Regions from separate parts of the Homo sapiens genome. Here region 1 is linked to region 2. The links come from fine-mapping of genetic effects on gene expression. A gene starts in region 2. The other region holds a variant in brackets. All regions are shown on one strand. Distances are between the middles of the regions.

Evidence for each region. PIP is the estimated chance that this variant, and not a neighbour inherited with it, causes the effect. A credible set is the group of variants that fine-mapping cannot tell apart.
Region 1: its variant is the best candidate, but not a certain one, in a credible set for the expression of DTD1 in subcutaneous fat (FUSION, PIP 0.59).

The regions. Positions count from the first base shown.
Region 1 is chr20:18,688,002-18,693,380 of GRCh38, forward strand. All of the region lies in intron 4 of DTD1 (D-aminoacyl-tRNA deacylase 1), which reads left to right. It overlaps DTD1-AS1 (DTD1 antisense RNA 1), which reads right to left. Exons shown (of 4, transcript NR_109955.1): 2 at 3,967-4,015. Among named protein-coding and RNA genes, the nearest start is that of DTD1-AS1, 8.0 kb to the right of the region's middle. The variant T/TA (reference allele first, on the strand shown) is at 2,135.
Region 2 is chr20:18,584,822-18,590,200 of GRCh38, forward strand. It overlaps DTD1 (D-aminoacyl-tRNA deacylase 1), which reads left to right and starts at 3,233. Exons shown (of 6, transcript NM_080820.6): 1 at 3,233-3,294. The coding sequence starts at 3,252. LOC124904878 (a long non-coding RNA gene) reads right to left here and starts at 2,644. Exons shown (of 3, transcript XR_007067547.1): 1 at 2,604-2,644. RefSeq lists enhancers at 404-698, 3,370-3,869, 3,710-3,769 and a silencer at 3,060-3,599.

The sequences.
Region 1 (5,379 bases), 100 kb after region 2:
CCTTCACCATTCATCAAAAGAACAGTCTGATGCCAGCGGCTAGTTTCAAAGAGTAAAACGGAATATCTCTTTATTTCTTTTAATTAATAAAACCCATGCATGGTCCATCTATATTTGAAGCTAAAGTTATGTCAGTATAAGAACATAGTTCCTTGGTTCTCAGAAGATGTTTATTCATTCACTAATCAATTTTTTCACCTATCAAATATTATCATTTACCTACTATGCCACGCACTAGGCATTTGGGATACCATGATGAACAAAACTGACACAGACCCTCTCCTCACTGAGTCTTCGGACTTGGGATCAGGCAGACATTTTTGAAATAATTCTACAAATAAGTATTAATTATAACCTGTGATAAGTGCCATGAAATGTAAGTACAAAGTGTCAGAGGAGTGTGAACCTAGATTCATGCAGGGTACAGGAACTCTTCCCTGAGGAAGAGAAGCTGAGCTAAGGAAAAGGGTGTAATGAGGTGAAGTGGGATGGGAAGAGCACTCCAGGGAGAAGGAGCAGCACATGCAACAGTCCTGAGACAGGGTGACCCTGCGGCTTTCCTACATAATGTCAGCGGACTACAGCGTAACACTTTGGGGGCATAAACTATTACCTTTTGGATATCTGGAAGGTCCCTTGCCGGGAACGACCCATCTTTCTATACTAGATTGCCAAGTGTTATTTTTGTTGTCTGCTCTCATTTTATCTTCTAGTGTTTGGTTTTTTAGCTATGAAGCATTCACAGAAATGATAAGAGCCAAGATCTCCTTCCAGGAATGTGGTGTTTAATTGGGTAACCCGTGTACCTGGGAGAAAATGCCCGCAGAATATTGAGTAGGAAGCAGGAAGTCCTTGCTCTGATCCTCATTCCCTGGGGTGGCCTGTGGGGGGTGGGGAGGTATGTGTTAGCAGGTGGAGCTAGCAGTGGCCAGGAAGGCATGACCCAATGAGAAATAAAAAATTCAGAACCCTCTGAAAGCATTGCAGAATATGATGGGAATTGAAATTAGAAACATTGTGTGCATTTCTAATACTCGTGCTAGGAAAAAGACTATAGCTGTGTTAAAGTTTAATGCGTGGACCGTAATAGAGAGCTGAACAGCTCTCCACGGCCCCGTTTTTCCATTCGTTTTCGGAATAAAGAAGCTGGTTCTATTTTAGGCTTGTATTTGGGAAGTGGACTTTACCAGAATGGGAGTCTGAGGCCAGAGTTGCCTTTTCCCTCCCATGTGAACAGATACAGTTGAGAGGTGAAGAATGGTGTGCTCTGCCCTCCACTGCCCGCCCCCTTTGTATGTGTGTTATGTGAAATTTTAAGGGGGTATATGGAGTTTGGTGATTTAAAATTCTTTATCAGTTTTCTCTCTAGATTTTCATAGAATCACCTATAGACTTTCTTTAGGGTACCTCTGTTAGGGACAGAAAAAGGGAATGAAATATACACCGGTTTCTTGTTGTTTTCATTTTTAGCATTCATTTGAGCAGGGATGCAACTGAGGCTTTAGTTTGCCCTTGGATTAGTTATCCTCTGTCTCAGTAGGCAGGTTTATTTGGACAGTGGCATATGGAGAGGGTCAATGGGGGCAGGAAGGATGTTGGTATTTTATCACTAACATTGTTTAAAATTACAGTGCATGTGGACAATAAAAACCATAATGACTTTATTATTTGTTTTAAAACTATCTAGACCAGCACTGTCCAATAGAATTTTTTGCAGTGTTGCAAATATTTTACATCTCACTGTCCAGTACATTGGACACTAGCCACTTGTGACTAATGAGCACTCTAAATGCAGTTAGACTGTGGAACTTAAATTTTAATTAAAAATTTTTTCATAAGTTTAAATTTAAGCCGGGTATGGTGGCCCATGCCTGTAGTCAGTCCTAACTACTTGGGAGGCTGGGGCAGGAGGATTACTTGAGGCCAAGAGTTAAAGACCAGCCTGGGGCAACTTAGCGAGACCTTGTCTCTACGAAAAACAAAAATAAGCCAGGCGTGGTGGTGTGTGTCTGTACTCCCAGCTACTTAGGAGGCTGAGGTGGGAGGATCACTTGAGCCCAGGAGTTCAAGACTGCAATGAGCTGTGATCACACCACTGCATTTCAGCCTGGGTGACAGAGCAAGACCCTGTCTC[T/TA]AAAAAAAAAAAAAAAAAATTAAAAAATAATTTTACCCATGTAAAAAATTGAATTATTTGTTTTTGTCTTGTTGATTTTTTAAAAATTTCTTGTAGATTTTGGATTTTAGACCTTTGTCAGATGCATAGTTTCCAAATATTTTCTCCCATTCTATAGGTTATCTGTTTACTCTATGGATAATTTCTTTCACTGTGCAGAAGCTCTTTAGTTTAATTAGGTTCCACTTGTTAATTTTTGTTTTTGCTGCAATTGCATTTGGGGACCTAGCCAAATTCTCTAGCAAAGCTTATGCCAAGAGGGTATTTCCTAGGTTTTTCTTTCAGTATTTTTATAGTTCGAGGTCTTACATTTAAATCTTAATCCATCTTGAGTTAATTTTTGCATATGGTGAAAGGTAGGGGTCCAGTTTCATTCTTCTACATATAGCGAGTCAGTTATCCCAGCATCCTTTATTAAATAGGGAGTGCTTTCCCCATTGCTTATTTTTGTCACCTTTGTTGAAGATCAGATGGTTGTAGGTGTGCAGCCTTATTTGTGGGTTCTGTATTCTGTTACATTAGTCTGTGTGTCTGCTTTTGTACCAGTATCATGCTGTTTTGGTTACTGTAGCCTTATACTATAGTTTAATGTCAGGTAATGTGATGCCTCTGGCTTTGTTCTTTTTGCTTAGGATTGCTTTGGCTACTTGGGCTCTTTTTTGGTTTCCTATAAATTTTAGGATAGTTTTTTCTGTTTTTATGAAAAATGACATTGGTATTTTGATAGAAATGGCATTGAATCTATAAATTGCTTTGGGCAGAATTTTAACATGGGCAAAGGACATGAACAGACACTGCTCAAAAGAAGTCATATGCATGGCCAACAAACGTGGAAAAATGCTTGTTGTCACTAATCATCAGATAAATGCAAATCAAAACCACAATGAGATACCATCTCACATCAGTCTAAATGGCAATTTTTAAAATTAAAAATGAGCAGAAGCTGGCAAAGCTGTAGAGAAAAGAAAATGCTTATACCTTATTTGTGGGAATGTAAATTAGTACAGCCACTGTGGAAAGCAGTTTGGAGATTTCTCAAAGAACTTAGAACTATTAATATCATTCAACCCAGCAATCCCATTACTAAGTATGTACATACCTAAGTGAAAATAGATTGTTCTACCAAAAAGACACATGTACTTATATGTTCATCACAGTGCTATTCATTCTAGCAAAGACATGAAATAATCTAAGTGCCCATCAGCAGTGGACACATAAAGAAAATATGGTACATATACCCCATGGAATGCTCTGTAGCCATAAAAAGAACAAAATCATGTCCTTTGCAGCAACATGGATGCAGCTGGAGGCCATTATCCTAAGTGAATTAATGCAGGAGTGGAAAACCAAATACTGCTTCTCACTAAGAAGTGGGAGCTAAACACTGAGTACACATGGAAGTAAAGATGGGAACAGCAGACACTGGAGACTACTAGAGCGGGAAAGGAGGGAAGGGGATGTGGGCTGAAAAACTACCTATTGGGTACTATGCTCATGACCTGGGTGATGAGATCATCTGTACCATAAACCTCAGCATCACACAATATACCCAGGTAACAAACCTACACATGTACCCTCTGAATCAAAAATAAAATTAAGAAAAGAAAAATTTAAATAGCCACACCTGGCTAGTGGCTACCATATTGGACAGTGCAGGGCTAGACAATGTCCCACCTTGTTGCCTGCATCTGGGGTGCATGCATTACTCCTACTCCCCAGCCTTAGCCCCTACTGCTTGGAGAATCTCACACCTGGTCAGCATAAAGCCAGTTTTCAGGCTGCCACTTACTTACCTTTTGGTGTCTGTGCCATGAAAAGAGGCAGAGACCAAAGAGGTTGTGCCTATGTAAAAGGAAAAAAAAATTAGCACCTTACTTACAACTTAGGGCACAATAAAGCATGTATCTAAGAACATACTTTTATTGTCTACTGATTACCAATGATGTGAGAGCCACACCCCAAACTGTGTTCTCCTCCATAGTTTATTCTTCACTTTAGTGTACACACTGGCCAATGCAAGGACTTAATGATCTCCATCTTTCATGTGTAATTAAATATTAACATGATACCTAAGACAAGGAGTTTGACGTTTGCTGATTTGATGCCTTGTTTGTAAGTGATGGAGGTAATGAAATGGTTTCTAACTTCTTAGAGAAAAGTCTCTGGAACGTAGCATCTCCATTCATATTTGCCACAAGCTCTCTGTATCTCTGCTTCCTTTGGCTATTTGCCAGGGGGAATGCCTTTTATCTGCAGGTTTGGGGCAGGCTAGGGGGAGAAGAGGTCATTTTACTCTGCCTTTATGACAAGGTTAACTGGTTTCATCAGGCTAGTACAAGCCACCATGAATGGATCCACTCACTGAGGGAAGAAGACAAATGCCTGCTAGCTATGGCACTGATTGAGTTGTTGCTGAGGTCAGTAGCTCAAAGGGATGCACTAAAGGCAGAGCCATCTGGGCTGGAGTCAGGAGGAGCCCCACTGACTGCCTGGAAGGAGAGCTGAGGCTCTGAACCTTGGCTCCTAGCACTTGGCACCATACGCCTATAAATTATGTTTACTTTTTATGAAATCATCCCTGAAAAATCTTTCTGCCAAACAGGATAGAGCTGCATGTGAATTAATCAGCACTCTTATTAAAATACATCAGTTATCTTTTATTTTGCTATATGCTACTTGTACATCATTTGGACATTTTCTAGAAACAGGACATGGATTTTTTTTTTTTTTTTTTTTTGAGACAGAGTCTTGCTCTGTCTCCCAGGCTGGAGTGCAGTGGCACAATCTCAGCTCACTCACTCCACCTCCTGGGTTCAAGCGATTCTCCTGCCTCAGCCTCCCGAGTAGCTGGGATTACAGGCGCGTGTCACCACGCCTGGCTAATTTTTTTGTCTTTTTAGTAGAGATGGGGTTTCACCATGTGGGCAAGGCTGGTCTCCAACTCCTGACCTCCAGTGATCCACCCGCCTCGGCTTCCCAAAATGCTGGGATTACAGGCGTAAGCCACTGCACCCGGCCAACAAAATTATCCTTTGCTTTTCTTTTTGACCTTGTATTTCTCTTTATTGTGGTGGTTGGTGGTGGATGGGAAGGGAGGGAACATTTGTTTATATGACTTTTATGTAAATGAAGAGAAGTTAGTCAGTGAATAACATTGTTTGTTGTTTTCTGCCAGCTTTTCTTGTAATAGAAAAATTGAGGGCCAG
Region 2 (5,379 bases):
GTATGAAGGGCTTCGGGGTTCATTGAACACCAACTGGTGAATTGCAGTTCAACTCTGGCAGGAATCACCTGGAGTTAGAACAGATCCTGCAAGTTTAAGGGTACGTTTCCCAAAAAGATTGCCCCTATTTCAGGTGCCAACCACACTTGGGTGTCCCCAAACCACTTGCACTTCAGACCAACTGGCTACACAGTCAGGAGTATCCATGACTCCCTAGGGTTGATAATGCACTAGAATCACTCATGGAACTGAGGAAAGTGCTGTAATTATCATTTATAGTTTTATTATAAATAATACAAATTAGGACCAGTCAAATGAGATATGTTAGGCAAGGTCTGCGAGAGTACCAAACACAGAGCCTCTGTGCTTTCTCCCTGCGGAATCAGGGCCATTACCCTCCCAGCACATCAATGTGTTCAGCAACCAGGAAGCTCAATGAAGCTTCAATGTCCAGAGTCTTTCCTGGGATTTCATCATGTAAGCATGACTGATTGAATCATTGGCCACAGGTTGAACTCAATCTCTGTCTTCTACCCCTCCCACAGGTTGGGCTGGCTCAGACATCCAGTCACTATTGGTCTTTCCAGTGACCAGCTCCCAATCTGAATTGTCTTGTTAGTAAACTCAGGAATAATCAAGGAGCTCATGAATAACAAAGATACTCCTGTCTCTTGAGAAATTCCAAGAATTTTTAAAGCTCCATGCCAGAAACCCAGAATTAACAAAGGCCAAAGTCTTTATTGTACCATAGGGGTGAACATTTTGAATTCCATTTTAAGTATGTTAACTTTTTTTTTTTTTTTTGAGACACAGGTTTACTTTGTCACCCAGGCTGGAGTGCAGTGGCAGTGATCCTGGCTCACTGCAACCTCCGCCTCTCGGTTTCAAGTGATTCCTGTGCCTCAGCCTCCCAAGTAGCTGGGATTATAGGTGCCCACCATCACGCCTGGCTAATTTTTGTATTTTTAGTAGAGATGGGGTTTCACCATGTTGGCCAGGCTGGTCTTGAACTCCTGACCTCAAGTGATCCACCTGCCTCAGCCTCCCAAAGTGCTGGAATTACAGGCGTGAACCACCACGACCAGCCCAATTTTCCCTTTTTTAGTCTTATTCTTTCAGGAGTGCACAATGGAGTTTTCCAGGGGCTCCGTGACATATAGTGACTTCATTGCTCTGATATTCATATGTAGGGGATTTATTATTGCTATTTTTAAATGCATTGATAAATCCATGTTAACTATTTCTCTTAGTTAAAAACAGTAAACATTTTTAGATATAATCCACCTAAACAAAAGCTATACTTTGTGCCCAATAATTTTTAAGAATGTAAAGGGATCCTGTGATCAAAATATTGAGACCTGCTGATTTTTCAAAAACTCAAATTTTACCAGTTGTTCCAATAATAAGCTTTTCCTTTTCTTGATTTTTCTGGCCAGGATACCACCCAGGTTAATTTAGTTTTCCTGTCTTTTTTTTTTTTTTTTTTTTTTTTGAGACAGAGTCTTGCTTTGTCACCCAGGCTGGAGTGCAGTGGCACGATATCGGCTCACCGTAACCTCCGCCTCCCGGGTTCAAGCAATTTTCTTGCCTCAGCCTCCCGAGTAGCTGGGATTACAGGCATGCGCTGCCATGCCTGGCTAATTTTTGTATTTTTAGTAGAGACGGGGTTTCACCATGTTGGCCAGGCAGGCCTCGAACTCCTGACCTCCAATGATCCGCCCACCTTGACCTCCCAAAGTGCTGGGATTACAGGTAGTTTTCCTGTCTTTTAAAAAGTCCACGGCTGGGCGCAGTGGCTCATGCCTGTAATCCCAGCACTTTGGGAGGCCAAAGCGGGCAGATCACCTGAGGTCGGGAGTTCGAGACCAGCCTGACCAACATGGAGAAATCTCATCTTTAATAAAAATACAAAATTAGCCGGGCGTGGCGGCGCATGCTTGTAATCCCAGCTACTCAGGAGGTTGAGGCAGAAGAATTGCTTGAACCCAGGAGGCAGAAGTTGTGGATAGCCAAGATCACACCATTGCACTTCAGCCTGGGCCACAAGAGCAAAACTGCATCTCAAAAAAAAAAAAAAAAAAAATCCTCCTTAATTCTCGGAATCCTACCTGGTTATTTTGTAGAATGTTCCTCAATTTATTTTTGTCCTATGTTTCATCATGATTGGATTCAGGTTATACATTATTTGGCAGAAATACCACAAGATTGATGTTGTGTCCTTCCCAGTGCAATATCAGGAGGCACATGATGTCTTGTTACTGGTTATGTTAACTTTGACAACGTTATTAAGGCAATTTAGTATTCAGTATTTAACAAACAAGCACACTAGTTTGTAGTCTTTTCTGGGCAAGTGAGGGTTTCTTCTCAATTTCAGTGCCTTTTCTACGCCCACCAATGCTATTAGTCACCTTTAAGGTGAAGACTGCTGAGATGGAATTATTTTTAGCAATGATAATAATTTGTTGGGGTAATAGTTGTACAGCCCTTTGCTGCCATCTAAGCACTTTTACGTGGTTTGGTTCATTTAAATCTAACAACCCAGTGAGGGGGCCAATTAGTAGCATTTATATTACATGAGAAATTAGAATTCTAGAATCACATACCTATTTATTATCATGACATGGCTAAGTCGAATTAATAGTGAGATAGGTAAATGGCTATTTTAGGCAGCAGATCCTTTTGTATGTGGTATCTGAAAAGCCACTGAGGCAGGAAGACAAGGAAGAAGAATTTGGGAGGATCTGCGTGCAGAGGAGTGGAAGAGGAAAGAGGAATACAATTAGAAATAGGATTCAGGCTGAATTTAAAGGCTTAGTGATGACGGGTTCTTAGGTTCGGGTATGTGGGAGAAAAAAACCAGCATAGAGACTACCTTCGGGGCAGAGTGGGTTCTGGGCACTGGGTAGGGGCTGGGCCCGGGATGGGGGGATCAAAGGGCTCTGGCGGGACCCAGATGTGGATGGGGCAGGGCCGAGCGTGGGGACTGGGCTTTTCAATGACGGGCGGGGTTACGGTTGGGCAGCAGGTGGGCGTGGCAGGCATAGGCGGAGTCAATCTATGAGTGGGTGGGCCTATCGCCAGGCCGAGAGTGGGCGTGGCCGACGTGGGGTGGGTAGCAGCCGACCGAGTCGGACCGGCCAGTTGGGCGCGCTTCCGGGTGTCACCTCCAGAGGGCGCCGGCTGCGGAGCCGCCCTCAGAGTCGCGAGGCCGGACGCAGCGCGGCGCCGCCCCACTCGCCCCAGCCGCCGCCATGAAGGCCGTGGTGCAGCGCGTCACCCGGGCCAGCGTCACAGGTCAGTCGGGCGGGGCCGGGCCCGGGAGGAGCCGCCCCTGACCCCCGCGACCGGCTGTCTTGCGTGGGGGGTCTTCCTGCGCCATCCTTGGGGCCGCTGCGGCCCCTCCGCGAGCCTGGTCCCCTTCGCGAGCTCGGTCCGCGCAGCCGCGAGTCCCCAGGGCCGGCTTCGGGGCAGCGCGGCGGCCGGAGAGCCCCCTGCACGTGCCCGACCGGCCCCGGCGCGCCCCTGGCTTCCGGCTCTCGGCAGAGGGTGCAGGACCAGCGCGCCTCATTCTCAGCACCTTTGTCCTGCGTGCGGGATGGCGGAGCCTCGGAGCATCTCCGTGGTCCGCTCTTCAGGGAGTGTTGATGAACCACGCTTAGAGCATTTCCGGAGCAGGCACTCCTCCCTTTTCACTGCTGTATTTTAAATGTTCAATTTTTGCCCATTTTTACGTATTCCAATTTTTATGGGGCTTGACTCAGGATGAAATGCACAGATGCGGAGAGTTGCTCCTTGGGCTGAGCTTTGACAGTTGCGTGCACGTACGTGACTGGAGCCTAGGCTGGATGAGGGGCGCCCCCTGCCCAGGACGCCCCTCGCCCTCGCCCGCTGAACTCTGCGCGGAGGGGTCGGGATCTAAAGAATTCAAGATGAAAACATTTCTCTTTTTCTTGTGGACCAAGCTACCCGACCCCTGGTCATCACTCAGCACTTTCGTCTCGGTTGGGCATCAGAGGTCCAGATGATTAGTGTAGATAAAGTAGTCGTTTTAAGAAAACCACGGTACGAAAGATATTTTTTAAAAAACATTTAAATGACAAGCTTTATATTGTCTTTAGTCTTTTCTGTCTTTATTGGCACAACTATATTGTTTCAGTTCAAATAATTTCAGATATCCTGTCCTTGGAGCCAGTCTGCACCAAATATGCGTTCTTGTGTCCACAAAAGTATGAATTAAAAACAAAACAGGCCGGGGGCTGTGGCTCACACCTGTAATCCCAGCTCTTTGGGAGGCCAAGGCGGGCAGATCACCTGAGGCCAGGAGTTCGAGACCAGCCTGGCCAACATAGAGAAACCCTATCTCTACTACAAATACAAAAATTAGCCGGGAGCGGTGGTTGGTGCCTATAATCCCAGCTACTCGGGAGGCTGAGGTAGGAGAATCGCTTGAACCCGGGAGGCAGAGGTTGCAGTGAGCCGAGATTGTGCCAGTAACCTCCAGCCTGGGCGACAGAGCGAGACTCTGTCTCAAAAAACAACAAACAAACAAAACCCCAAAACAAAAAACAAAACAAAACAAAAACAACAAAAAACCCTAAAGAAACAACCAAACCCACCAAAACCGTATATTTAAATCTAAGAGTCTATTTTTCAACCCCGCCTAATGATTTCTAAGCTGTTCTGGTAGCTTTGGTTTTGGAAATGGTCCTGGAATAATAGGGAATAGAGTAGCACTGGGATTTAGGAATTTTAAAGCTTTTATAACATTTCTGTAGATATTTAAATTCATGAAAACTGGGAAAATTCATAGATGAAAGATGTTTTGCATTATTGAGAAGAACCTTGCAGTCTGCTGCTGTGTGTGGTCGTCACTGACAGATTTAAATTTTGATCTCTCTCCTGAACTCTCCATCCTGCTAATCTGGAATATTGAAAATGTGTATTCTGTGAGATGTGCTGAATAAGAGTTTGGGTTATTTTGGTTCACTATTTAAGTTATATGCTTTCAGTTAAAACAACCAAACCTGCATATTAAAAAAGATAAGGGTGTTAATTATGGGAAAGTGTAAATAATTCGGGAATTCTGGGTTGGGGAACTGTGGAATTCTGTTAGAAGGGCCCTCCACTTATGCAGGCCTTCTAGTTGCATTGTAATGGAAAGGGATTTTCTGATTCCTTTAAAATGTGGCTGGTTTCACTGAAATGTGGCTGTGTTTGAATGGCATTTTATTTTAGGGGTTCTAAAATGTTAACTTCCTGTTTTATGGTCAGGACAGCATAGATTATCAGGAGTCACACATTTTATTTTATTTTAAAATAGTTGGTTGACTTCACATTTATTTTAAATTTATGCATTTATGGTTTGTTTGTTTTAGAGAT